Linked DNA regions of Homo sapiens. The protein of the gene in region 2 interacts with the protein of the main gene of each other region in a pairwise test. Each region holds a gene or a part of one and is shown on either strand. Other genes may lie near its edges.

The links.
Region 1: the proteins of RNASEH1 (region 2) and ASPH interact in binary tests that used the Homo sapiens proteins (3 or more experiments, as listed by UniProt).
Region 3: the proteins of RNASEH1 (region 2) and NRM interact in binary tests that used the Homo sapiens proteins (3 or more experiments, as listed by UniProt).
Region 4: the proteins of RNASEH1 (region 2) and FAM3C interact in binary tests that used the Homo sapiens proteins (3 or more experiments, as listed by UniProt).

What each region holds. Positions count from the first base shown.
Region 1 is NC_000008.11:61,515,583-61,522,609, reverse strand, and holds part of ASPH (aspartyl/asparaginyl beta-hydroxylase), read left to right. Parts: intron 1-4,486; coding exon 4,487-4,578; intron 4,579-4,948; coding exon 4,949-5,082; intron 5,083-7,027.
Region 2 is NC_000002.12:3,548,308-3,555,334, reverse strand, and holds part of RNASEH1 (ribonuclease H1 isoform 1 precursor), read left to right. Parts: intron 1-3,026; coding exon 3,027-3,191; intron 3,192-4,862; coding exon 4,863-4,962; intron 4,963-6,222; coding exon 6,223-6,277; intron 6,278-6,610; coding exon 6,611-6,695; intron 6,696-7,027. UniProt on the Homo sapiens protein: Endonuclease that specifically degrades the RNA of RNA-DNA hybrids.
Region 3 is NC_000006.12:30,687,979-30,695,093, reverse strand, and holds NRM (nurim), read left to right. Parts: upstream 1-4,109; 5' UTR 4,110-4,119; coding exon 4,120-4,252; intron 4,253-4,263; exon of another isoform or gene 4,264-4,750; intron 4,751-4,850; coding exon 4,851-5,047; coding exon of another isoform or gene 5,048-5,069; intron 5,070-5,623; coding exon of another isoform or gene 5,624-5,641; coding exon 5,642-5,818; intron 5,819-6,151; coding exon 6,152-6,433; 3' UTR 6,434-7,045; downstream 7,046-7,115.
Region 4 is NC_000007.14:121,365,293-121,372,319, forward strand, and holds part of FAM3C (protein FAM3C precursor), read right to left. Parts: intron 6,848-7,027; coding exon 6,818-6,847; intron 6,132-6,817; coding exon 6,008-6,131; intron 1-6,007. UniProt on the Homo sapiens protein: May be involved in retinal laminar formation. Promotes epithelial to mesenchymal transition.

The DNA.
Region 1 (7,027 bases), on a different chromosome or scaffold from region 2:
AACTAACTCACTATCATGAGAACAGGATGGGGAAAACCACCCCCATGATTCAGTTATCTCCACCTGGTCCCTCCCATGACACATGGGGATTATGGGAACTATAATTCAAGATGAGATTTGGGTGGGGATGCAGCCAAACCATATCACTAGGGATGAGAAAATGACGTGTGAGGACACAAGAAGAAGGTGGCCACCTAGGAGCCAAGAAAAGAGGCCTCAGGAGAAACCAAGCCTGGCCACACCTTAATTTTGGACTTTCAGCCTCCAGAACTGTGAGAAAATACACTTCTGTTGTTTAAGCCACTCAGTCTGTGGTATTTGCTTGTGGCAGCCCTAGCGAACTGATACAGTATCCAAGTAGTTTCATTAGGACTGAACTATGTTTTTTTAAAGGACTGGCTTTTTAGAGTTGAAGGAAAAAACCAGAATCAGCAAATATAAATAATGATTTTGTTCCCCAAAAATAACTTTTTAAATTGTTATGTGAATATTATGGAACGTCTATTTTGCTCTTATCTTAATAAGTGCCACCAACAGTGATTAAAATATGCCACACATGTGCAGTCATTTTTTTCTTCCAGAGCCCATGGGAAAGGTGCTAACTGACCCCAACAGCCTTTCTGAATAAGCTGAGGCTGAACCTCTAAGTCCTTCTCAACGCAGTGTTCTAGGTGGCTGCTAGCAACTGATCAGAATTGTCATGCAAGATGGAACCTGTTGTTGCCCCAGAAGCAGAGCCTTGAAATTTATAAAAGATACAACCCAGGATATCAGTTCCATGAATAGCCCTCACAAAGTATATTCATGTGTAAGAAGTGATAAATTTAAATGATTCTTCCAGATTTGCATTGGCTGTTAGATCTCTTTCTAGAGCTATTTTCCCAAAGAAGCAAGGTTTATTACTTCTTGAGGGTTAGTTTAACGCTGGTGAGAAATAATCAAACGACAACAAAGCCACAGTGAGTTGCAGATGCTGGGCATTCCTCTTCAGGCTGAGTTAACTGGTTTGCTCCTGCACAGCTGCCTTCTAACTTACAATGCAACAAAATGAGAAATTATGCTTTAAAGCATAGGCTTTGGAAACCAACAATCCTAGGTTAGAGTCCTGGATGCACCGCTTGTTAGCTGTGTGATGTGTGCATGTCCCTGAATCTCTGAGCTTCAAATCCCTCATCTGAAAAATGGCAAATAGTGCCTCAAGTATGGGGTTGTTACTAGGATCAGTGAGCACTAGATGAAAGACTTGGCACAGTTATCCAATATATGATAGTAATATTATATTTTTATGGTCTAACAATAGCACATGATGTAATAACAGTAGTGGAGAGGTGGTCTCTGGTCTGGTTAAGAGCATGAACACTGGGTCCAGTCTGGCTGAATTGAAATTCCTGCTCTGCTGTTCGCTATGTGACCCCTCTGTGGCTCAATTGCCTTTCTATAAAATACAACACTAATTGAGCCTTCTTATGACATGTTGTAGACATCAAATGAGGCACTCTCATCATGCAGAGTGGTTCCTGGCCTGTCGTGAGCATCAAGGAACTGCCGTTGCATTCCTTGGACCCTCATGATCAGACGTGAAGAGTTAAAATGACCAGTGACAGTGCATGAATGCCCAGAGTCTACTGCACAGAGAATCTGGGTTTACAGACCAGAAAGATAAATGTGTCTAAAGAGCTAGAGGTGTTCTCTAATTCCTTGAAAATCTCAGGGACACAACCCATTTGGTTACCCATTCATCACCTGTCATTCAGGTAAGGCACATCTGTTCTCCAGGTAGCACATGCTCAGCCACCTGGTGCTTGTGAGAACTCCAGGCCACCTATGGTTGTTCCCCAAGCCACCAGTTTCACTTAACTGCTGCCTGGACAGCACAGAGCTCAGAATTGGGGACTCCTGCCAAGCAGCCCCAGGCCCTGCATACCAGAAGACTTGGAAAGCCCAGGCTCAAAAACACTTTACGGTGACTCGTAGGTTTATGTAATATTCACCCAAACTGACATTTATTGTTCATTTGGGGAACTCCATTAATAACTAAAAATAGCAATTAACATTTTATTCAATTAAGAGCCAAAAAGGTTACTTAGAAAAAGCTAAGTTGTTTTCTAAAACATTGAGCTCCATTTGATTGGGGTGAATACCTTTTAGTTGCGTTTTTTGTAACTCTTATTTTATTCTCAGTATGTGATTATCTTAGGACACAATTAACATTAATTAAATAAAATTAAACTCAGCTTTAGATGTAGCAGTCTCTTTTAGGAATCTTGAATAGGGAATTAAAATGTCTCTGACTTTTAAAAATCCCATTGTTTTACTCCCCCGTTAGAGCAGATGACATTGTGTACATTCTGAGCACATCTTCCCTAATAAGCAGGGGCTTTATAGAGTGTAAAGAAATTTGCATAGTTCAGGATACTTAAATGACATGTCCCAGAATCTGTGCTCTTGACAGTTAATCATAGAATATGTCCCCTCTCAAAGACGCCTTCTTCATTTAAATCCTATTCTTTATCATCATATAAAGGATGATCTGGATATGGAAAAGACATTGAAGTCCAATAAAAATAGTGTTTTGGCAACTAATATAGTCCTAGAAATGCATTTCTAAGTTAGAAATATAATATAAGCTATTTTCCTTCTTTAGGGGATGTATTAGTTTCCTGTGGCTGGTGTAACAAATTACCACAAAACTTAATAGCTTAAAACACAGACACATTTATTATCTTATAGTTCTAGAGGTCAGAAGTCTACAATAGATCACACTGAGCTAAAATACAAGTGTCACCAGGGCTGTATTCCCTCTGGAGTCTCCAGCTTCTAGAGGCTGCCCACATTCCCCGGCTTGTGGCCCCCTTCCATCTTCAGAGCCAGCAGTGGCCAGTCAAGTCTTTCTCATACTGTATCACTCTGACACTTACTCATCTGCCTCCTCCCACATTTAAGGATGCTGTGATTACCTTGGGCCCATCCAGGTAATCTTGGATAATCTCCCTATTTTAATGTGAGCTGATAAGAAATCTCAGTGCCACTTACAGCCTTAATTCCCTCTTGCATGAAAGACAACATATTCACAGGTTATGGGATGAGGGTATGGACATCTTTTGGGAGCTAACTATTATTTTTCCTGTCACAGGGGAAAAAATAAGTACAGTTGGCCTTTGAACAACGTGAATTTGAATGTTATGGGTCCGCTTATGTAAGAATTTTTGTCAATATATTGGAAATTTTTTTGAGATTTGTGGCAATCTGAAAAAAATTTGCAGATGAACCTTATAGCCTGGAAATATTTTTTAAAATTAAGAAAAATTAGGTATGTCATGAATGCATGAAATATATATAGGTACTAATCTATTGTATCATTTACTATATATATACAAATCTATTATAAAGAAATAAAATTTATCAACATATGCATGGAAGCACTTACAGACCATACATAGCACCATTCATAGTCAAGAGAAATGTAAACAAACATGAAGATGCAGTGTTAAATCATAACTCCATTAAATTAACTGTAGTACAGATTATACTACTGTAATAATTTCATAGCTGCTTCCTGTTGCTATTCGGCAAGCTCAAGTGTTTTCAGTATCTGCTTAAAATACCATGTGATACTGTCGTCTCCATGTGAGCAGTTCCTCTCTCTGGTAAATTGCATATCACGGTGAAAAGTGGTCTCTTATGGTTCTTGTGTATTTTTCCTTGTGTTTAATGCAATGCTGCAAACCTCGAATAACACCATGGGACCTATACAAAGAGCAACTAATGATGATGGACACGCTGCCAAGAAGCAGAGAAAAGTCATGACCCTACAAGAAAAAGTTGAATTGATTGATATGTACTGTAGATTAAGGTCTGTACCTGTAGTTGCAGGCCATTTCAGACATTCAATTCATCTTGTAAACAGATGATGTAAACTTATGGTATCGATAAAATACCGTACAGTACTGTAAAAGTATTTTCTCTTCCTTATTATTTTCTTAATACCATTTTCTTTTTTTCAGCTTACTTTAGTGTAAGACTATAGTATAGAATACATATAACATACAAAATATGTTAATCAACTATTTATGATATAGGGTAAGGCTTCCAGTCAACAGTAGGCTATTAGTTGTTAAGTTTTTGGGGAGTCAAAACTTAACATGCATGGAGGATCGAAGCCCCTAATCCCTGTGTTATTCAAGGTCAAAGGCCTTTAACCTGTGTCTTGTCTGTTAGACATTCTTAGTCAAATAGTCCAACACCGAGTGAAGAATTTGGATCCCTGCTCTGCCAGTCACTACCTATTGGAGCAAGACACGTCTTCTTTATTGATAAATTTTTATTTATTTCCAATAAGCCTTTTGCATTCCTACTTCATCTTCTCATGTTTACTCAATCTTCTCATTCCTGCAGTGAGGATGACATATAGCTCTCACCTCATCTAAATGGGATAAGTTTAAGCTTTACTGTGATTTGTTTCCAACAATTATGTTATTTATTCTAGGAAGAAGAAATGAAAATGCCTGCAAAGGAGCTCCTAAAACCTGTACCTTACTAGAAAAGTTCCCCGAGACAACAGGATGCAGAAGAGGACAGGTACCAAGAGTGTCGTGCTGGGGAGAATACAATTAATTGTTAGGAATAAGGGCGTGTTGACCTTTACAAAGAAATGGTTGTTTCCTTTGGCCCAATGAATGCCTCTTTTTACATGCCCTTTTTACTGAAACATAATTTTATGTGGTTGACGTCAGAATTGAGGGTGGAAAATGTTCAGTGTTTATAGCTTTGTGGAAAATGTGAGTGCTTATTTTTAGTTCCTTCACAAAGAAATAAGACTTGAATATAAATATTAAATCTTACAAAGGCTCTAATCCAAACTGACAGTAATTTTGTACTGTCACCTTAACTTAGCAGTTCCTCCACACCTTGATAAATGGCTGAATGGAGTGTCATGTTTTCTATGCAGATCAAATATTCCATCATGCACCCCGGGACTCACGTGTGGCCGCACACAGGGCCCACAAACTGCAGGCTCCGAATGCACCTGGGCTTGGTGATTCCCAAGGAAGGCTGCAAGATTCGATGTGCCAACGAGACCAAGTATGGGTCCTCTGTTATCCGTCATATCCGTCACCTCAGAGGATGAGAGTTTGTTACAACACAGTTGTGTTCCTTTGGATTACTTATCTTCTTTTGTAGCTGAAGTAGACTGGAGCAAAGTGATATTAATCCAAACTCTTAAGTCTATATCCCTTCTTGGTGCTTTCTATTAGCCTGGAGACATTGCCCAGCTCTAGGGCTGCCCTCCTCCATTATTTCTCGGCAGAGTACTTATCTAGTTGAGGAGCTGCCTTGTTTCTCTCTCTGGGTAGACAGATGTGCATTCAGAGTCAGCCAACATGCATTGAGCCCTGCAGATGTTATGCATTGTGCTTCCTGCTTTGCAACTTGACTTATTCATGACTACAAGAAGTACCCCTAACTGAAGAACTCACCCCATGATATTTATACGTTTTGATATAGAGGAGATGGTATGGTGCAATGGAAGCTGGCTGCCTTTTTCAAATCCCAGCTCTAACACCTAACCTGTGTAACCTTGGCTAGTTACTTAATCCCTTCAAACATCAGCCTTCTTGCTTATAAAATTGGCAGTGATAACATCTACTTTGCAGGGTTGTTGTATGGATTAACTGGAATAATGCCTATAAGGTGCTCAGTCCATGTTCTGGTATCAGTCGGGACGTGATGAATGTTAGATCTCCTCTCCCTCCCTTGCGTGTTACTTTCCTAATCCTGACATGTTTATTCATGATCTTTTGAACAAACCATACTTGCTCTGGCTTCTGTACCTATGATGCTGATAATCTCTGTCCCTAGAATGCCCGTCTTTTCACCTGTCCAAAATAAACCTATTACTAAGATCCAATTTAGTTTTATAAAAATAGAACCTCTCAGAGTATATATCCTCAGTAATCCCATTCCTATCTTCTATTACTCTTTATTCATTAATATATATTACCCTTATCTCCATAGCAAGCTGTATGTAAGCTCCTGGAGATCAGAAAGCAAGTTATTGTTGTCTTACACATTTCTTATTGTTCTTAGTAGAGGTCTGAGTGGAGGATGAGTGTTCAGGGGTCTGCAGAATTGTCTATTTGATTATTGGCAGATAACTGCCCTGGGCAGCCCATGGTGCTGTGGGAAATTCAGAGATGACTCAGAAGGGGCCGTCCTCTTCTGAGGACACCTAGCAAGGTGTGTCTGCTCAGGAAGATAACACAAGATTGAAGGCCACCGTGGTCATAGAAGAGGTACTACAGATGGCCTCTCTACAGATAAGCTAAAAATACTACAGATGGCTCCATGAGCAGGAGCCTCACCTGCTCACAGACACTCAACTTGCAGAGTGGTGGTTTTTAAAGACAAGAAGGATTCGGACATTGAAAGCTAAAGAGGGGTATTCTGGAACAGTATCCATTAAAGGCACAGAGGCCAAAAATTATGGCCACATATGAAGAATATTGAATAATAATTCAGCAGCCAGCAGTGTATGGTACATAAAGAATAAGGTTGCAAAGTGAAAGAGTCTTTTAGAAACTAAATCATAGGAGGCTTTGAATCCCAAACTAATGGGATCAGACCTTTGTTAGGAAGTTACTGTGGAACCCATGGGTGAATCCTATGGGGACAGTGGGAAGAACAATTAGCAGGCTGTCACAGCAGCCCACCCAAAAGATAAACAGAGCTGGAATTGGGATGCTGGAAAGAAATGGAGACTAGAGAGCAGATGCAAGAGGTGACTCTTGAATGTGTGATACAGGAATGGGGCATCCAAGATGCTGCTGCAATTGCAGTCTTTGGACAGTGGAGGGTGGCGATGCTTGAGCAAACCTTGGGAATTTGGGAGGCATGAGGCAAGTTCAAGGAAAGGAAGATGAATTTAGTGCTTATGTATTTTATTTAGTTGCTATTGGAACACACTTGTAGAACCATCCAGGAGGTGGCTGGAAATAGAGACCTGGCACTCAGGGGAGAAGGTAAGTCT
Region 2 (7,027 bases):
GACAAGGTGTTGGGGCAAGGAAGGCGACTTTTTTCCGAGAGCCAGCAAGTCAAGAAGATGGTGGACTAGTGTCCTGAAGAACCATCTTAAGTTAATAGAACTTGAGACTTCTTTTATGTTAAGGGAAGGGGAAAGAAAGGCGGAGGTGAGATCAGGAGGAGACCGATGAGCACAGACATCTGGATGGCAGCGAGGGTCCAAGGGGATTGTGAAACTTCTCTGTCCTTGGTCAGGCCATGATGCTCCTCCTATAAGTCTTCAACATAACATTGTTATTTGTGTGTACTCCCTCTTTATCTCCTTGGGGGTTAGTTTTGGGAACGGACCACTGTCATCCTTGCTTTAAACTATAAATTCTTCCCATAGTTCACTCGGCCTATACGATACCACTATGGGGATGTTAAGGGAGAATGGAGGCAGTAATGCTGAGCCGCCTCCTCGCTGTTACAGCTGTTCATTTTTCTACCCAGATGGAAAAATCAGTTTGAGACAGAAAGCAGGTTTGAAAATATGGCTTTTTCCTTCTTTGCTGGGTTCCTGATACTTCCTTTTCTTAATTTTCCTTTTCAGTTTTCCTTTTCACAAATTTTTTGTTTTTAACCAATCAGTAATTTATTTGTATCTCAAGTCTTCCAATATAAGTATGTTTCTGTTTTTATTAAGTACTCTGACTCTTAAAGCAAGCTAGTTCTTTTGAATCTACTTCTTTAAACTTTAGAGACCTCCTAGTCAGTGACTTACGTCTATAAATTGAGATTTAGTGCCTTTAATGATTCAGATCTGTATCAAAAAGTCTTAGCCCCTTTTACAGTTTTTTGTTTTTTAACATTACATTTATCCTTATTTTAGAATTATTGAGCTATTTACTGGTTCTTATGGTTTATATAAGCTGATTTAAGGTTAATTTACTTAAAAACCACAATTTTGTGAAGTAAAACTTAACTGACAAGTGTGTTTTTTTCCTCCAAGTCTTATCTGTTCTGTAAAGTGTCCATCTCTGTTATAGTAAGTAAAACCAGTGTTTATATCCGTGTTAAGGTTCTACAAAATGACACTTTAACCTGGACCACAGTATCTGCATTTACTTCAGTAGAGTACCTAGAGGAACGTTTTGGAGATGAGTGTGTGAAAACAAAATGTGGCAGTGGAAACGCCAGCTGTTGCTGACGTCGTGCTGATCACAGTCAAGTGTTGCCCGGCGCCCTTAGGGTTCCGAGAGGTGTGGGTTGAGAAGCTCCACTAGGCTGGACATTTTCTTGTTCCTTTCTAGTAGGCGTTCTGTGATGTTCGTGCCCCATTTCTCCATCCCTGGTTTAGGAGTTGAGAGCTGGAGGTGAATCCTGTAGTGTTGGGTTAGGGTTGTTAGTTTGCAGGTAGTTGGTTGCTCCTGTGTCCTTATTTTCACTCCATGTAAGGAAAAGTCGTTTGAGATCATCTAGCCCAGGGCCTCGTTTTACAGAAGCCCAGAGGGTTTAATTCAGTTGACGGAGTTCGCAGCTGATAAAAGGTATAGCACAAATTGAAACTGGTTTTTTGAGTCCTGGTCTAATTTAGCTGTTCTACTTCAGCTGCCATAGTATTACCCAGTGAGTGAGATATGGGCCCTTCCCAGATAACCCTGAGGTGGTATTAAGAATCTCTTTGGGGCCGGGCGCAGCGGCTCACGCCTGTAATCCCAGCACTGTGGGAGGTCAGGGCAGTGGATCACAAGGTCAGGAGTTCAAGACCAGCCTGGCCAAAATGGTGAAACCCCCATCTCTACTAAAAATACAAAAAAATTAGCTGGGTGTGGTGGTGGGTGCCTGTAATCCCAGCTACTTGGGAGGCTGTGGCAGAGAACTGCTTGAACCAGGGAGGTGGAAGTTGCAGTGAGCCACGATCGCGCCACTGTACTCCAGCTTGGGCACAGAGCAAGACTCTGTCTCAAAAAAAAAAAACTATTTGGGATTAACCTTGAGGTCCCCCTGAAGAAAAACTTCGTTGCAGAAGAAAAACTTTGTTGCAAAAGAAAAGCTGCAAGAGTACTGACCCTGAAGGGACCCAGTTGCTTCCTTTTAGTTTCTGGTTTCTGTTTCCTTTTTTTTTTTGAGACAGAGTCTCACTCTCTCGCCCAGGCTGGAGTGCAGTGGCGCGATCTCCGCTCACTGTAAGCTCCACCTCCTGGGTTCACACCATTCTCCTGCCTCAGCCTCCTGAGTAGCTGGGATTACAGGTGCCCGCCATCACGCCTGGCTAATTTTTGTATTTTTAGTAGAGACAGGGTTTCACCATGTTGACCAGGCTGGTCTTGAACTCCTGAGCTCAAATGATCTGCCCGCCTCGGCTTCCCAGCCCTGTTTTCCTTTCTTAATATGTCCCATTATCTGTTTATTCAAGCTAGATGAACCTGCACCCTCTGAGCCCTCCTAGGGGTTCTTAACTTCGTGTCCATGTAGTTGTATTTGAGGCAGGGAGAGGCTGAACCATGGACACAACTCATCTTTTTTTAGATTTATCTATTTTTAAGCAAAGGGGTCTCACTATGTTGGCCGGGTTGGATTCAAACCCGGGCTCAAGCGATACTCGTATGTCAGCCTCCCGAGTAGCTGGAACTATAGGCACACACCACTGCGCCCAGCAACACCACTGATGTTATATACACAATTTTGGGCCATGTTTTTCCTGGAGAAAGAGCCCCTTGAGATGCTGTGGAGGGGATTGAGATGCTGTGGAGGGGGTGGAGGTGGTGTGGAGGGGAGGGGGTGGTGGTGGTGTGGAGGGGAGGGGGTGGTGGTGGTGTGGAGGGGAGGGGGTGGAGGTGGTGTGGAGGGGGTGGAGGTGGTGTGGAGGGGGTGGAGATGGCGTGGAGGGGGTGGAGATGGCGTGGAGGGGGTCATTCCCTCGTTTCCCTCGTTGTAGGGCCACATAGAGAGGGTGTTTTTAAGTCTGATTTAATGATACTAAATAATTTACTGAATGTCTTCATTCTCTAGCATTTCGTGTTATGTTCATTGTTTCCAGCTCACGAGTGGACTCTTGTCTTTCAGGGCATGAAAATCAACATGGACAAGAATCGGAGGCGAAAGCCAGCAAGCGACTCCGTGAGCCACTGGATGGAGATGGACATGAAAGCGCAGAGCCGTATGCAAAGCACATGAAGCCGAGCGTGGAGCCGGCGCCTCCAGTTAGCAGAGACACGTTTTCCTACATGGGTACATCTTCCTTGGGTTTTCAGATTTTAATACCACAGTCAGGAAAATGTTATGTGTAAAAGGTGTTTCCCACTTGATGGGGGGAGTTTGAGCTGGTGTTTATCATCTTCATTCTTATGTGTAAAGATTATTTAGAAATCACTAAGGCCATTATTTATAATCAAGTAGTGCAGAATTAAACTTTTGGATGTTCTTAGGAAAACCCTTACATGTAAATGAACAACTGTAATCTTTTGAAATACTAGTATTCCCTGTGCATGCAGTACTTAACGTTAAGATGAAATGCGAAGACTCCAGCTTTTTCAAATAACACCTCACACGCAGCTGCTTGTTATAATTGATTAGCACCAGCATTTTAACCTTTCATATTCAATCTTTGGAAAACAAGAGATTCTATTTTATCCTGAGAAGCAAGGTAGTAGTGAACTTTTCTGCTACCTTTCACTCCAGGAATCAGTTATGTATTTAGTGACTCACAGAATAGAATTCTCCTTTGTGTCTTTTACACATATGAGCAGAAAGTAGAAATAAGCATTAAAAAATATAAATCAGTATATTTATAGGTTCTAATTTAATTCAAGGGAAACCAGTAGAAAATGTTTTGCCAAGCTGTATTATTTATAGATATGTTTTGCAGTTACGTAAAAAAAGATCAAACAAGTATTCTTTATTTGGTGATTTACTAGTAGGAATTGAAGCAAAGATTTGTGGAGTTGCAGGGAGATGAGCCGTTTCCAGACACTGACCATTGCTGGAGGCTTGGTGGCCTGGAACATGGCGGATAGCAGGTGCTGGCTCCTGAGACAGTTCAGTGGCTGGGTGGGAAGCTTGTAGTCATGCTGATACAGTTAAGTTCCAGCTGAACGGAGGAGCCCTGCCCAACACCCACACTCCCCTTGGCTCTCAGCCCCGCTCCTGTGAGGAGCACATCCCCATCTTTGCCCCTTCGCCACTGCTGAGCTCAGTCTGCCGTCCTTCGGACAAGTACTTCCACTTCCTGCGCGTACCACCTCTATTTGCCCTCTCGCCCAGCTCTTTTAACACTGTGCAACCTGACCTCTGATCCCACCACACTACTGAAGTGTCCTGGTCACCAGTGGCCTGAGAATGCCCCCGTCAGTCCTTTTTTACCTTGTTCTTTACAGCCTTTGTGTGTCAATCATACCCTCTATCTAGAGGGAAAGAAGCAAAGACGGGAACCACACTTAACTAGCAGCAAATATGCCAGGGAAGAAATTAGACCAGCACTGGTCAGGAGACTGGGCCCTCTGGCAGGCAGGGTCACCGTCATGCTGAGGCGCTGCTCGTCTCTGGAGGATGGCTCCCTGGGAGTGAAGGTGACCCTGCCGTGGAGACAGCGCCATTGTCCTCTGAACCCACAGTGTGGGATGTGAACAGTAGTTTTTACTGCAGCAGGCTCTAGTTTTACAAGGTGATTGCCTTCACCCCGAACTTGCCTGGCCTGCAAGATCAAAATGTAAGTGGATTCCAAGCATAAATGTTAGGTGCCCCCTTGTAAGGAATGGAGCATGTTTTCCTAGAGAGAAAACGTCTGCAGCGTTGTAAAATACCCTCTCGGTTTAAAATGCTAAGTCGACCTAGTGGATTTTTGAGGTGAATTTCAGTTTTTAGTAAGGTCAGCCCAGCAGCATGTACTTCCTTTTCCCACAGGAGACTTCGTCGTCGTCTACACTGATGGCTGCTGCTCCAGTAATGGGCGTAGAAGGCCGCGAGCAGGAATCGGCGTTTACTGGGGGCCAGGCCATCCTTTGTAAGTTAAACGAAGCTGAGTTTTACTGAATCATGTTCCACAACTTGTGAAAAGATGAGGCGGGATCTGCTCATTGTTTGATTATTGGGAAAACCTGCAGATAAGTAGCTCTGGCAGGGGTGGCAGAGGAGCAGCTTTGGTTCGTGTTGGGGCTAAGCGGCATTGCTTTTCAGAACGTGAGGTACCTCAGCTTTACTTCCTTTGCTTTTTTTTTTTTTTTTTTTTTTTTTAAGACACGGTCTCACACTGTTGCCCAGGATGGAGTACAGTGGCACAAACACAGCTCACTGCAGACTTCACCTTCTGGGCTCAAGCGATCCTCCCACCTTGGCCTCCCAAACTGTTGGGATTATGGGTGTGAGCCACTGCACCTGGCTTTGGTGTTTCTTTCTTGCCCTGGGGAGGAGTCTTTTTTTTTTTTTTTCCTGAGACGGAGTCTCACTCTATCGCCCAGGCTAGAGTGCAGTGGCGCGATCTCGGCTCACTGCAAGCTCCACTTCCCAGGTTCACGCCATTCTCCTTCCTCACCCTCCCGAGTAGCTGGGACTACAGGCACCTGCCACCAGGCCCAGCTAATTTTTTGTATTTTTAGTAGAGACGGGGTTTCACCGTGTTAGCCAGGATGGTCTCGATCTTCTGACCTCGTGATCCGCCCACCTCGGCCTCCCAAGAGGAGTCCTTTTTTCAGTAGAGATGAAGTCTCACTATGTTGCCCAGGCTGGGCTCAAATTTCTGGGCTCATGCGATCCTCCCACCTTGTCCTCCCAAAGTGCCGAGATCACAGGTGTGAGCCACCACCCCTGGCCCAAAAATTGCTCATTCTTTTAGGAAACTCTGGATCTCCTGGTGACCCCAAATTTTAAATAACTTGTCTAAGGGTTTTTCTGGTTCCTTGATTTCATTTTCCTCTTTTACTTCCTGGAGGTTTTTAGTAGTTTCAATCTGAAGTCTCACTCTCTCCATTCTTCTTCCCGAGTTTTCTCCTGGGATTCTTTCTGCTGCAGCCATAGGGCCTAACCCAGGGTCCGCAGAGAACCAGCTTTTACTTCCTTTGCCCTAGTGGAACCCATGAGAGTCAGAAGGTGCCCAAGTGTGGAAACCTGTGTGCTGCTCTCTGCTGGGAGTCTGTTAGTTTGATTTTTATATGATGCTTTTATATTTCAAATAAGAATACACACTAGTTTATCGTTATCCATTAAGAAGAATCACTTTGAGAATTCACTTTATACTTTTATTTTCTTTTGTACTGTTTTGAAACAGAAATGTAGGCATTAGACTTCCTGGGCGGCAGACAAACCAAAGAGCGGAAATTCATGTAAGTTATCAGATACGTTTAAGCCTCTCTTTTTTGAGCATTGAGTATGAAATTATCAAATAAACTAATTCTTTTTTTTTCTACCTATACATATAAGATATTTGAAGAGAGACGGGTTTAATAACAATTTTGAAAAATAGGAATTTTGTAGAAAAATTCTAAAAACTTATTTCAAATAGATGTCTACACAGGAGAATTGTATGTATAGTAGTGTTTCATACAGAGAATATAATCAGTACAGAGGGGATGTTTCAATTTCGAAGTACTTTTGAACTTTAGTAATGTCAGAGTTGAACATTTTCTGTAGCATGACTATCGACTTGTCTTTTCAAGGCAGCCTGCAAAGCCATTGAACAAGCAAAGACTCAAAACATCAATAAACTGGTTCTGTATACAGACAGTATGTTTACGATAAATGGTAAGCTTTCACATTTGATTTCTTCTGTTTTTCCAGTAACTGTGAAGGGAAATTGGTAGGAGGTGTTGTAACAGGGCAGGACCCAAATGGGAACGGGGGGATGACATTGGTTTGTCAGGTACCGAGCAAAGAGTGAGGATTTTGGAGTCTCCCTTCTGCTGCTCTGATGTTTTCCACATGCTTATTTCTTTGCCAGGCACTGGAGATGCAGTCAGAAGTGGAAGTGGCTCTTACTTCTAGTCTGTGTGTGTATAAGTCACTTAAGATGGCGTGTTGACTGCTTCTTTGGGAAATGCCCTGAATAGGAGCATGTAGGGGATGCTTACGAGGCT
Region 3 (7,115 bases), on a different chromosome or scaffold from region 2:
TGGGTATGGAGTTTTATTTGGGGGTGATGAAAATGTTTTGAAGGCCCAGCGTGGTGGCTCATGCCTGTAATCCCAGCACTTTGGGAGGCTGGGGCAGGTGGATCACTTGAGGTCAGGAGTTCGAGACTAGCTGGACCAACATGGTGAAACCCTGTCACTACTAAAAATACAAAATTAGCCAGGCGTGGTGGCACATGCCTGTAATCCCAGCTACTTGGGAGGCTGAGCAGGAGAATTGCTTGAACCTGGGTGGCAGAGGTTGCAGTGAGCGGAGATCAGCCATTGCACTCCAGCATGGGCAATAAGAGCAAAGCTCCATCTCAAAAAAAAAATGTTTTGAAATTAGATAGAGGTGGTGGTTGTACCTATTACTAATATACTAATGTACTAAATACCATTATATTATTCTCTTTAAAGTGGTTAGGCTAGGCCGGGTGTGGTGGCTCACGCCTGTAATCCCAGCACTGTGGGAGGCCAAGGTGGGTGGATCACCTGAGGTCAGGAGTTTGATTGAGACTAGCCTGGCCAACATGGTGAAACCCTATCTCTATTAAAAATACAAAAATTGGCCAGATGTGGTGGTGGGCGCCTGTAATCCCAGCTACTTGGGAGGCTGAGGCAGGAGAATCACATGAACCCAAGAGGCGGAGGTTGCAGTGAGCCAAGATCGCGCCATTGCACTCCAGCCTGGGCAATAAGAGCGAAACTCTGTCTCAAAAATAAATAAATAAATAAATACAATAAAGTGGTTAGGCAAGGCATGGTGGCACCCTGGGAGGCTAAGGCAGCAGGATCACTTGAGCCAAGGAGTTTGAGACCAACCTGGGTATCATAGTGAGACCCCATCACTACAAAAAATAAAAAGTTAGCTGAATGTGGTGGCGCATGCCTGTAGTCCCAACTACTCAGGAGGCTGAGGCAAGAGGACCATTTGCCCAGAAGTTCGAGGTTGCAGTGAGCTGTGATCATACCACTGCACTCCAGCCTGGACCGCAACTCAAAAAAAAAAAAAGGTTAATTTTATGTTGCATGAATTTCAATTTTTAAAAAATAGTTGATTACTTATGTACACTTTTCTGCATGTAAGTAATACTTAAGTTTGGAAAACTTTGGTGTAGTAGAAATAGCATGAGATTTGCCAAGCATTTTGCTGGCTATTAAACATATCTAATCTCATAATATACATTAAGCACAGCCATTGTGGGGGTGGCAGACAGTATGACCCAGATAAATATTAGTCCCCTTGCACAACTCAAAGCTTTCATACTCTAAAATTGTCCATGTCCCGGAGGCCCTGATTTCTTTCTTTCCATTTTTTTTTTTTTTTTTTTGAGACAGAGTTTCACTCTTGTTGCCCAGGCTGGGTTCAATGGCGTGATCTCGGCTCACTGCAGCCTCCGCCTCTCGGGTTCAAGTGATTCTCCTGCCTCAGCTTTCTGAGTAGCTGGGATTACAGGCATGCACCACCACGCCCAGCTAATTTTGTATTTTTGGTAGAGACAGGGTTTCTCCATGTTGGTCAGGCTGGTCTCGAACTCCCGACCTCAGGTGATCCACCCACCTTGGCCTCGCAAAGTGCTGGGATTACAGGCGTGAGCCACTGCACCCGGCTCCTTTTTTTTTTGTTGTTGTTGTTGAGATGGAGTCTTGTTCTGTTGCCCAGGCTGGAGTGCAGTGGCGCGATCTCGGCTTACTGCAACCTCCGCCTCCCAGGTTCAAGCAATTCTCCTGCCTCAGCCTCCCAAGTAGTTGGGACTACAGGTGTGTGCCACCACACCCGGCTAATTTTTGTATTTTTAGTAGAGACGGGGTTTCGCCATGTTGGTCAGGCTGGTCTCTAACCCCTGACCTCGTGATCCACCCACCTAGGCCTCCCATAGTGCTGGGATAACAGGCATGAGCCACCGCGCCCAGCTCCTTTTTTTTTTTTTTTGAGACGGAGTCTCACTCTGTCACCCAGGCTGGAGTCCAGTGGCGAGATCTCAGCTTATCGCAACCTCCACCTCCCGGGTTCAAGCGATTCTCCTGCCTCAGCCTCCCGAGAAGCTGGGATTACAGGCTCCTGCCACCACACCTGGCTAATTTTTGTCTTTTAAGTGGAGACGAGGTTTCACCATGTTGGCCAGGCTGGTCTCAAACTCCTGACCTCAGATGATCCAACTGCCTCGGCCTCCCAAGTGCTGGGATTACAGCTGTGAGCCACTGCGCCCAGCCAGAGACCTTGATTTCTTACCATACCTGCTGTCTGTAGAGCACCATGTAGCACTCAGCTACACTCCCTCTTCATGAGTGGTACTATTTAAATGCCTCAGGTTAAACATCTAGAGATTAGGGATCTTTTCTTACACTTCCTTGTATTTTATTTATTTATTTTTTTGTTTGAGACAGAATCTTGCTCCATCACCCAGTGGATTCTCCTGCCTCAGCCTCCCAAGTAGCTGGGATTACAGGCGCATACCACCACACCCAGCTAATTTTTAAAATTTTTTAGTAGAAATGGGGTTTCACCACGTTGGCCATTCTGGTCTCCAGCTTCTGGTCTAAAGTGATCCACCCACCTCAGCCTCCCGAATTGCTGGGATTACAGGCGTGAGCCACCGAGTCTGGCCTCTTACACTTCCAATGAACCCCATAGCTTGTAGCACATTGCTTTGTGTGGTAAGTGTCTCTATTCATGGTCCTAGCAGGAAATGAATAGCACAGTGAAATTAGGATAATTTGGGGGAGAGTTTAATAAAGTGATAATTACAAAGAAGTAGGCAGGGTGTAGGGAAATCAGAAAGAATAGTGCAGTGCCTTAGTACCCACAGCTCTGTTGTGATCACCTCCAAGCTCAAAAAGATGAGGACAGAGCAGTCGTGTAGAGAGGACTTTCTTTTTTTTTTTTTCTTTTCTTTTTTTTTTTTTTTTTTTTTGAGATGGAGTCTTGCTCTGTCGCCCAGGCTGGAGTGCAGTGGCGCGATCTCGGCTCACTGCAAGCTCTGCCTCCCGGGTTCACGCCATTCTTCTGCCTCAGCCTCCTGAGCAGCTGTGACTACAAGCGCCCGCCACCGCGCCCGGCTAATTTTTTTTGTATTTTTAGTAGAGACGGGGTTTCACCGTGGTCTCGATCTCCTGACCTCGTGATCCACCCGCCTCGGCCTCCCAAACTGCTGGGATTACAGGCGTGAGCCACCGCGCCCGGCGAGAGGACTTTCTCAATAAAAACTGTGACTTTCATTGATACCGTCCATTTGGGACAACTTACTGAAGCAGAAAGCAGGGTGGAGACTGAATTCAAGGGAAAACATAAGATGTCTGGTACAGCATACAACAGCATTGATTCAGAGGAGGGTGGGAGTACTGAGCCCAGGAGACGGAGAAGGAATGTAAAGCCTGCGAGAGGCTGCTCAGCAATTATCTGGTCCCTTAGCCTACAGGATTAGCAGCTTCCTAACTCAGGCAATTATCTCTCTGGACCTGTTTCTTCTATCTATAAGTTGATGGAATTAGTCTAATGATATCTAAGGTCCCTACTATGTGTACGTCTACTGTGACAAGGTCCTTAGCTGCATGATCTTTAATTCTGACAAAGGTTACTATCACAAATATTTTAACATGTTTATTCTCGTGGTTACTAATCAACAATCTCTGGCACTATTACAACAAACCTTTCAGTATTTACAGAGAAGTTATTTGCCATTCTTAGCAACTGGCCAGTCAACAACTCAACTTTATAGTAAGTTACAGAATTTATTCTGTATATTGTATTCTGTACAATGTATTCCATACATTAATTTATTTTGTGGTAAAACAGTAACTTTTCATTTTAGATGGGAAAACTAGACGAGCTGAGATTCAACCCACGTGAGCGGCTGCAGAGCCGCTACCCTTAACAGCTCTCTCTCGGGATTCTAACATTCCCTTCTGTGACGGAGAGACAGCAGGCCGGGACACGCATCCCAGGACGGATCCACAGCTGGATGGGGAAGGCTGCGCCAGGCGGGCCGGAAGCCTGGCGGTGGCGTGCAGGAGCCCCGCCCTCCTGGGCTGGATTCAGCCGGGGGCGGGGCCGCGGGCGGGGCCTGTGGCAGCGGGAATCCCGACCCCGCCCCTTTCCCCACCCCTCCATTTCTCGCCATGGCCCCTGCACTGCTCCTGATCCCTGCTGCCCTCGCCTCTTTCATCCTGGCCTTTGGCACCGGAGTGGAGTTCGTGCGCTTTACCTCCCTTCGGCCACTTCTTGGAGGGATCCCGGAGTCTGGTGGTCCGGGTGAGCGGGAGGGATCGAGGATGAACTGGGAGGAGGAAGGTGGAGCCGTAGGAGAGGGATTGAGGGCGGGGCTTGGAAACAAATGACAGGGGAAGTCCAAGAGAGGGAACTCGAACCTTGAAAGCGGCCGAGAAGCTACAGGGGAGGGAGACCTGAGTTCTAAATTAGGAACTCAAGGATTAGAGTTTTGGAGAGGCGGGAGAGTGAGGACTGAGGGAGCCGAAAAGGGCGGTGACCGGAGTATTCTAAGTAAAGTGTTTTGTAGAGAGGACTGTTGAGAGGAGAGTGTTAAAAAGAAGGAGCATTTGGAGAACCGAAGTAAGAGGGGCAATCCAGCGTGGCCTCTCCAGCCATGCTTTTTGCAACTGCCTAACATGTGGTGTTCTATAAATCCTCTTCCCCAGGTTTGCAGGAGGCCTAGGGAAGAGGGCAGAAACTAGGGATGGAAAAGTGAGATGGGCACAGCCTAGAGAGGAAGCATTAAGGCTCTTGAAAGCAGTAAGGGACATGGCCTGGGGATCCAAGAGGAGATGAGGGTGGGGGAAACATTCTGCCACTGTTTCGATCTTTTGTCTCTTTTTCCCTCAACTTCCTGTAGATGCCCGCCAGGGATGGCTGGCTGCCCTGCAGGACCGCAGCATCCTTGCCCCCCTGGCATGGGATCTGGGGCTCCTGCTTCTATTTGTTGGGCAGCACAGCCTCATGGCAGCTGAAAGAGTGAAGGCATGGACATCCCGGTACTTTGGGGTCCTTCAGAGGTCACTGTATGTGGCCTGCACTGCCCTGGCCTTGCAGGTATGAGGCCCTGGCCTTGCAGGTATGAAATCCTGGCAGTTGAGTCCCCAAGGGAGACCAAGTGTGGGAGGGGTGCCGTGGATTGGAGGGGCAAAATATGGGTTCAGGAGGAGAATTGAGGAACTAATCTCAGCTTCCATTCCTCCACAGCACATATCCTACTTTTTATCAAGAAGGGTGTACTTGTCCTTCCCTAAGCACAAGATATGCTTCTCACCTCTGCAACTTTGTTTATGTCCTGCTTGAGATCCCTTCTCTTCAGTCCTACCCTTTCTTCAAAACCACTTCCCTAGGTCTGAAGAGAAGGCCTTGTCTGTCTTTTCACTGGGTGGTTGGCACAGGCTACTACTTTGCGTAGCTATCAGGTCACCCCATCTATTCTATAAGTTCTCAGGGTAGAGACAGGCCATCCTTACATCTTTGGGACCTCACCCAGCACGCACCCTCCACATGGTGAATATTTGGTGGTGATGCTTAGGAGAGAGGTGGGGGAGAGTTGCAGGCTAGCCTGTGGTGGGGGCAGATCTGGGTCTGGGTCTCCCAAGGTCGGGCAGACTAGGCCACTGGGATACCCAGCCCCTTATCCTTCCACAGCTGGTGATGCGGTACTGGGAGCCCATACCCAAAGGCCCTGTGTTGTGGGAGGCTCGGGCTGAGCCATGGGCCACCTGGGTGCCGCTCCTCTGCTTTGTGCTCCATGTCATCTCCTGGCTCCTCATCTTTAGCATCCTTCTCGTCTTTGACTATGCTGAGCTCATGGGCCTCAAACAGGTGAGGCTCCGAGATCCCTACCTATGACCTCTGACCCATTTTAGAACTCCTCGTTCCCTTTCAAGGGTTTCCCTCCTCCCATGCTCTTCTACTGTCTCCCTGCTTCTCCCTCGTGGCCCTTCCCTTTGACTTTCCCTCGTAAGGGCAGCAAGCATGGGCCTCCTGGGCCTGGGGAAGGTACATGGATCAGAAGTCAGGATCAGGGATCCAAGTCTCAGAAGGGGGGTTCCTGGGCCTGAGTTCTAGAAGGGTGGTGCCTGGAAGAGGAGGAAAGAAGTGCCCAAGATGAGAAAAGGGCTTGACTCCATTTCTAAGCTCTTCTCCCTCTCTTAGGTATACTACCATGTGCTGGGGCTGGGCGAGCCTCTGGCCCTGAAGTCTCCCCGGGCTCTCAGACTCTTCTCCCACCTGCGCCACCCAGTGTGTGTGGAGCTGCTGACAGTGCTGTGGGTGGTGCCTACCCTGGGCACGGACCGTCTCCTCCTTGCTTTCCTCCTTACCCTCTACCTGGGCCTGGCTCACGGGCTTGATCAGCAAGACCTCCGCTACCTCCGGGCCCAGCTACAAAGAAAACTCCACCTGCTCTCTCGGCCCCAGGATGGGGAGGCAGAGTGAGGAGCTCACTCTGGTTACAAGCCCTGTTCTTCCTCTCCCACTGAATTCTAAATCCTTAACATCCAGGCCCTGGCTGCTTCATGCCAGAGGCCCAAATCCATGGACTGAAGGAGATGCCCCTTCTACTACTTGAGACTTTATTCTCTGGGTCCAGCTCCATACCCTAAATTCTGAGTTTCAGCCACTGAACTCCAAGGTCCACTTCTCACCAGCAAGGAAGAGTGGGGTATGGAAGTCATCTGTCCCTTCACTGTTTAGAGCATGACACTCTCCCCCTCAACAGCCTCCTGAGAAGGAAAGGATCTGCCCTGACCACTCCCCTGGCACTGTTACTTGCCTCTGCGCCTCAGGGGTCCCCTTCTGCACCGCTGGCTTCCACTCCAAGAAGGTGGACCAGGGTCTGCAAGTTCAACGGTCATAGCTGTCCCTCCAGGCCCCAACCTTGCCTCACCACTCCCGGCCCTAGTCTCTGCACCTCCTTAGGCCCTGCCTCTGGGCTCAGACCCCAACCTAGTCAAGGGGATTCTCCTGCTCTTAACTCGATGACTTGGGGCTCCCTGCTCTCCCGAGGAAGATGCTCTGCAGGAAAATAAAAGTCAGCCTTTTTCTACATATGGCATGCAGTCTGTCAGTGTCTCCCAAGCTACAGGGCTGAGTTTGGGAAAGAAAGCCAGAGGGAGCC
Region 4 (7,027 bases), on a different chromosome or scaffold from region 2:
ACAAATAATGGAGATTCATGTTCAAATTCCACTTGCCTGTCAATGATGACTGAATCAGATAATAAGTTTTAAATATTGGAAGACTACTTCCTACATTTTTGGTGCTATCCACCATATAATAGATATAGATAGGACATATTTTTCAATTTAATCTGTGTAATATTTTCTCCCTCACCTCAAGTCTAGAACTTGAGTCTGCAAACTTTTTGTGTAAAGAGAGAAAGCACTAAAGAAGCTATAGGGAGATACATTCAAAAACACTATAAATAAATCAAAAGAAACACTTTTTTAAAATGTTTATGTAACTCATAGGAAGGCAGGAAAATGAGAAAATGAAAACAAATAATAAAATAGACTTAAACCCTCATATATTAATAATTATAATAAATGAAAATAGTTTCAACATACCAAATAAAGACAGAAATTGGCAAAGTGAATTAAAACAGGAACCAACTACACACTGTCTACAAGAAACTCACTTTAAATATAATTATATAGGCAGTGGAAAGTAAAAGGGTAGAAAGAGACATATCATGCAAACATTAATCAAAAGAGAAATTACAATTCAATTATAAAGAAACAACCCAATTTATCAATGGGCAAAGGGTTTCAACAGACATTTCTCCACAGAAGATATACAAATGGCCAATAAGCACACAAAAACATGCTAGACACCACTAATCATCAGGGAAATGCAAATGAGATTTCACTTCACATCTACTAGGCTGGCTATAATCAGTAAGTCAGATAATAACAAGTGTTGGCAAGGATGTGGAGAAATTGGAACCTTCATACACTGCTGGCGGAAATGCAAACAGATGCAGCCACTTTGGAAAACTATCTGGCAGTTCCTCAAATAATTAAACAGAGTTACCACCTAAAACAAAATCCACTCCCTGGGAGTATAAAGAAATCAAAACATATGTCCACATAAAATGTGTACATAAATGTTTCTGTAAATGTTACTCATTATAGTTAAAAAGTGGAAACAACTCAAATGTCTACCAACTAATGAATGAGTAAACAAAATGTGGTATATCCATACAATGGAATATCGTTCAGACATAAAAGGAATGAAGTTCTGATACATGATATAACATGGAGGAAGCCTGAAAACATTATGGTAAGAAGCCAATCACAAAAGACCAAATATTATATACCACTTATATGAACTGTCCAAAATAGGCAAATCTATAAAGACAGAAAGGAAACTAATGGTTAACTTAGGGTTTGGGGGTGGGGAAGTGGGGCAGGACAAGAAAGGCATAGAAGGATATTAGCTAAGGGGTACAGGGTTTCTTTTTGAGGTATAAAAATTTTCTAAAATTGACTGTGGCAGAGATTGCATATATCTGTGAATATAATAAACCACTGACTGTATAATATAAATGAGCAAAATGGACGGCATGTGAATTATATCTCAAAGCTGTTTAAAAGTACTAGCTTGGAGCATATACATTTAAAAGGTTCTATGCTTTACTACTTAACCATTGGCTCAGCTGCATCAAAGAGAAGGAAGTTTCAAAATGTACTGTTCTGTTTCTTTCAGAAATACATTCAATAAGTAAACTCCATCATTAAGAAGTAACTGCTGTGATTAACGGGTTAAGTGCCAGAGTGACTTTTCCAAGTAAAGATCATCAAGGAGTATGATGTGGCATTTTACAGACTGAAATCTATCATAAAGCAAAGAAATAAAGGTAACAAAGAAGCACAATGACATAGGCTTCCCACAAGAGGGCAGCAGCTTATCAATTTTTAAAAACTGAAATTCAAACAGAAAATCTCTAACAAATAAAAAATCCACTGAGATTTAAAATGTATAAAGGTTAGTAACCCTTACTAACACAAGTTGAAATATTTTCTTTTATCCTTCATGAATATAAGGTACCCCTTCCCACATCTCTAGGCAAAATTCTAAAGGAAATGATTATATCATCTGTAGAAATACTCAATATATCCAAATATAGATTTGTTTCAAATAGCTACTTCATGTCCTAGTTATTAGTTATTATCTCTTAAGATGGTTAGTTTAAAGCAGGGCTTGGCAAACTATAGCTCACGAGCCAAATCCTGCCAACTGGTTTTTTGATTTGTTTTACTACTCATGAGCTTAGAATAGTTTTTACATTTTTAAATGGTTACATTTTAAATGATTATGTAAGTACATACATAATAACCTTGATTTTACCTCTTTGCCCTCATAGCCAAAAACATTGATCCCTTGTTAAAAAAAAATCCCTCAAAATAATCTCATATTCTTGCAGCAAACATTACCATTAAAATCAAAAGTAATGAATTATTCCTAATATCAAATTCATACAAATTGAAATCAAATGAATATATGCCTTAGATGAAAATTATAATTGGAACATAAGTTAGTTCTATGGGTGCTCTAACGAGAAAGAAAAAACCTGTAATCCCAGCACTTTGGGAGGCTGAGGTGGGAAGACTGCTTGAACCCAAGACTTCAAGACCACCTTGGGCAACACAATGGGACCCCATTTCCACAAAAATAGAAAAATTAGCTGCATGTGGTGGTATGCGCCTGTAGTCCCAGCTACTCAGGAGGTGGAGGTGGGAAGATCGCTTGAGTCCAGGCATTCAAAGTTGCAGTGACCTAAAATTGCGTCACTGTACTCCAGCCTGGGCAACAGAATGAGACCCTGTCTCTAGGTAAAAAAGAAAAGAAAAAAGAAAAAGTAAAGGAAAAAAAAAAGCTGCAATTACTGTTTTTCCTGAGACCTGAGGTTCATACCTGCGATTTTCTAACTAATGAGACATTTAAAACACATCTTTATCAGCATAATGTATTTTGACTTCAACTACTTATGACCACCATCCTAATTGTAATTATCACCTGTCTGTATCAGAGTTTCTCAAACCCAGCCTCTCATTTTAAGAGCCTGATAATTCTTGTGGATGAGCTGACCTATGCACTGAAAGATGTTTAACAGCATCTCTGGCCTCTACAAGGAGTACCTCCAAAGCTATGACAACCCAAAATTACAATGTTCCCTGGAAAGCAAAACTGCCCCCATTGAGACACACTGATCCAAGATTAGTAGTCTCCAAAGTGAGTTACATGTACTCAGAGCAGGTGCTGTGAAAAGACTAAATTCTCTGCTTGTGTTATTTTTATTATCTACTTATAGATTTTAGTGAATGTATAAGCAATAAAGTCTGTTACCAACAGGGAGGCAGTATGAAAGTGCTGTGGCAGTAACTGGCAATGGCCTTCCAATTGTCCTCTCTATTCCACTTCCTTAATTATTTTACACAGCAACCAGATAACTTTTTTCAATATAAATAAAATCACGACATGCCAGAATTTGAAATCCTTCCACAAGTTCTCAATACACTCAGAAAAAAGTCTCAACCCTTTACCTGCGTGGCCTACAAGTTCCTATGCAGCCTGGCCCTAATTCACTTCTCTCCAGAGCTATCCAATCTTAGGGCCTTCGAGCAGGCTTCTTCCTCCTGCTCGAAGACCAAGGATGGTCTTCCTTTCTATCCCTCAGATCTCAGAATACACATCACTGTCTTAGAAACTGTTCCATAACCCTCAATCTAAAAGTTAGACACCTCTTTCCATCCACTCTCGCCAGTACTCATCACACCCTGCTGCCCTGCAGGGCTGGTATCACAATTTGTTTGTTCATTTTTTGTTGTTGTTGTTGTTTTTTTTTTTTTTTTTTTTTGAGACAAAGTCTCGCTCTGCCGCCCACCCAGGCTGCAGTGCAGTGGTGCGATCTTGGCCCACTGCAACCTCCATCTCCTGGGTTCAAGAGATTCTCGTGCCTCAGCCTCCCAAGTAGCTAGGATTACAGGCCCATGTGCCACCACGCCCGGCTAACTTTTGTATTTTAGTAAAGACGGGGTTTCACCATGTTGGCCAGGCTGGTCTCAGACTCCTGACCTCAGGTGATCCACCCGCTTCGACCTCCCAAAGTGCTGGGATTACAGGCATGAGCCACCACGCCCAGCCTGGTGTCACAATTTATAAGTACGTATTTTTTTTAAGCATCTGTCACCCCTACTAAACTGTAAGTTCCATGACAGGAGGGATTATGCTCAAAAATACTTGCTGAACAGGTGAATAAATGACTCTCAGAAAACTTAAGACTCTTTCTTTGGACTTTAACCTGAGGCTTGGGTATAAAATCCCACCAAGTATTTAATCTCTCATGGTAATGGCAGAATGGTTCCTGAAATAAGGATGGATAGGTGGCCTGCCTCATTTAATGGTTAAAGAAACTGAAACACAAATGCTACATGACACGCCCACCATGCTAGAAGCAAATTCTCTGGCTCTAAGCCCAGTATGTATTTTACCAAGCTCCACTGTCTATGCACTGTTCGCTTTCTGACCTTAGATCTTTAGCTGTTCAACATTAGGCTGAGGGATAGAGAACAGCTTCTAAGACAGTGATGTGTACTCTGAGAACCAAAGGTCAAGAAGGAAGACAGCCAAGTGAAGAGTGAGGAAAGACCATCCTAGACAGAAGAGTATACTCTAAGGCCCCAAGATCAGGAAGATCTGGAGAGAAGTGAATAAGGGTCAGGATGTGGGTAAACAGTTGAGCTTTTTTTCTGAGTGTGTTTTGTTGTTTACGGTTTTAATCTGTGAATAAAAAACCTGCTAGTAAACAGTCTGATCTCTTCTTCTCTGAACTAAAATTCACATGCATCAAGGGGGCAGAATAGATGTCCAAAATCATCCATGGGTTAGGTATTCTAAAAGAACTTTGTTCCTGTGATTTAGAATCAAATTTGGGGTCTATTTAACCAAACAAGATAAAGAGTGGAAATGAGAATGTTTTCAAAAACCTACAAACTTCTAAAATGCAAGTGCCTTATTATGCATCAGTAAAACAGGACTATTCTAATGAGAAATCAGAAGACAAATGGATTAACAATAAATCATCATTAGAATACGGGAAAATAAAGGAAATCAGTACAGACCTTAATGATCATCTAGCTCAAGCCCTTAATTTTACAAGAAAAGTGTTGTCCCATGAAGCTCAATAAACTTCTTACAGCTAACTGCCTGCAAAAGAGGCTAGGATAAAAATTTAAGAGCTTCAATATTAAAAAGAAGAGGCACATAAACAGCTAGGAAAAGCTGCCTAGGTCTCCTCTTTGCTATAAAATTATCTCTTTATTCTATATAATTCGTGACAAATTTATTATTTTATATTAAATTTAAATAAGCCCCCATGTCTAGTTTTCTAGGCAATAGCATATTAAAAGCAACCAACTAAAAGTAGGATTTGCAATTTCAGCAGCAGGAACTTGCGAGCAACAGTTGACACTGAGGTAGGATATCAAAAATCCTAAAAACCATCCTTTAGAAAGCATCTCAACATAGGAAACCATTCAGCTTAGAGGCAAGCAGTTTGTGCTGCAATGGAACTGAGGTTATCACTGGATCATTTCACACTTCAACAAGTAGCACTCAAATATTTTAAATGAAAGACGTTGGATTTCATTTAAAATAAAGAGAACACATTCATTGTCCAGGGCAATGTTGCAAATAGGATTTCTGCCACGATGAAAATGCTCTCTCTGCTGTTCCATTTGGTGACCATGAACCACATGTGGCCACTGAACACCTGAACTGCGGTGACAGATACCAAGGAACTGAACTTTTTAGTTAATTTAAGTGAATTAACTTTCTTCCTAATATTTAAGGATCAAAATTAAATAGCCACATGTGTTCTGTTGCTAGCAAATGGGACAGTGCAGATCTAGAGAATTTACTCAGAGGAAATCTCTTATCTCTATAAAGCCGAATAAGTGTTACGTTCTTAGTCACTCTCTAATATAAAATTTAAGAACTTTAAGGTCCCTTGAATTCATGAGAAAAAAACTACATAACAAAAATGGAAATCACTTTCCATTAATAAAGTATACCGAACACATTTTCAAAATATCCATTAAACTCAGGTTCAATTGGCTGCAATTTAATAGCACACCTTATCGTCTCAAGTCAACAAAGACTTACACATTATCTTCCAGGCAGATTTTGGGTCCCACCACGTTGGCTGCTCCACTTGCCATTTTAAAAGCAAAATGCTTCTCAGGGCAAGCTTTTGAGATCCCACACTTATATCTGGGAGGCTTTGTAGCTTTGGGGGAGAAAACATGATGTCTTTTTTTAGAAAACAAGTTAACAGACTTTACCTCACTTTACTTCAAATCTCAAACCACAAAGAGCATTAAGAAAAACATCAAGATACACGTATCTTAAAATACAAGCTAATTTGTTCCCCTGAGGGTTTCAAAGAACCTCAAAAAATTTTTTTAAAAAAAAACAGCAACAAAGAAACCCACAACAGACACCAGATCTTCCTAGGAAACAAACTAATAATGGATGCAAATGAGTCAAGTAATATGATCTGCATTAGGGCAAATATATTTTATCTAACTATGAGTTTATTTTTAAATTTTAGGATGTGGGGGGTTCTGAATGTTACTTTGCACTTCTAGTCCATATATGCACAAAAAATCGTCACCTCCAGGATAATTAAAAAAGGCCTAATGTTCCATTGACTACCTTGCCCATGTACACTCTTAACTCCTTCTCACACCAATTTCTGTACTTATAATAACGGAGCTAAAAAACACAAAATATCCATCATGAATAATTGCCAAAAATATTTGGGCTGTCCAATCAAATAGCATCCTCATAACTTTAAAAAGCAATTTCTAAAGCAGTTTTTCCTCATACTGAACTACTGACACTTTGAATATAAGCTCTCATATGCCTAAGGCAGAATAAATCATACATAAAATATTGAGATGAAATACTTACAACGTGCAGCTGTGTCCAATGCTGATCTTGCTGAAAAAAAAAAATTACTTTTGTTAGAAGGAATGAGTCTATTGGCAAGTATCCACTTTTAAAATATATTTAGGTCCACAAAAATAAGTGTTCAAATAATGATTCAGTATACAATAAAACATGAATATCACTTAAGAAAAAGTGAGAAAGTAACTTCACACTGTACATTCATTATAAACT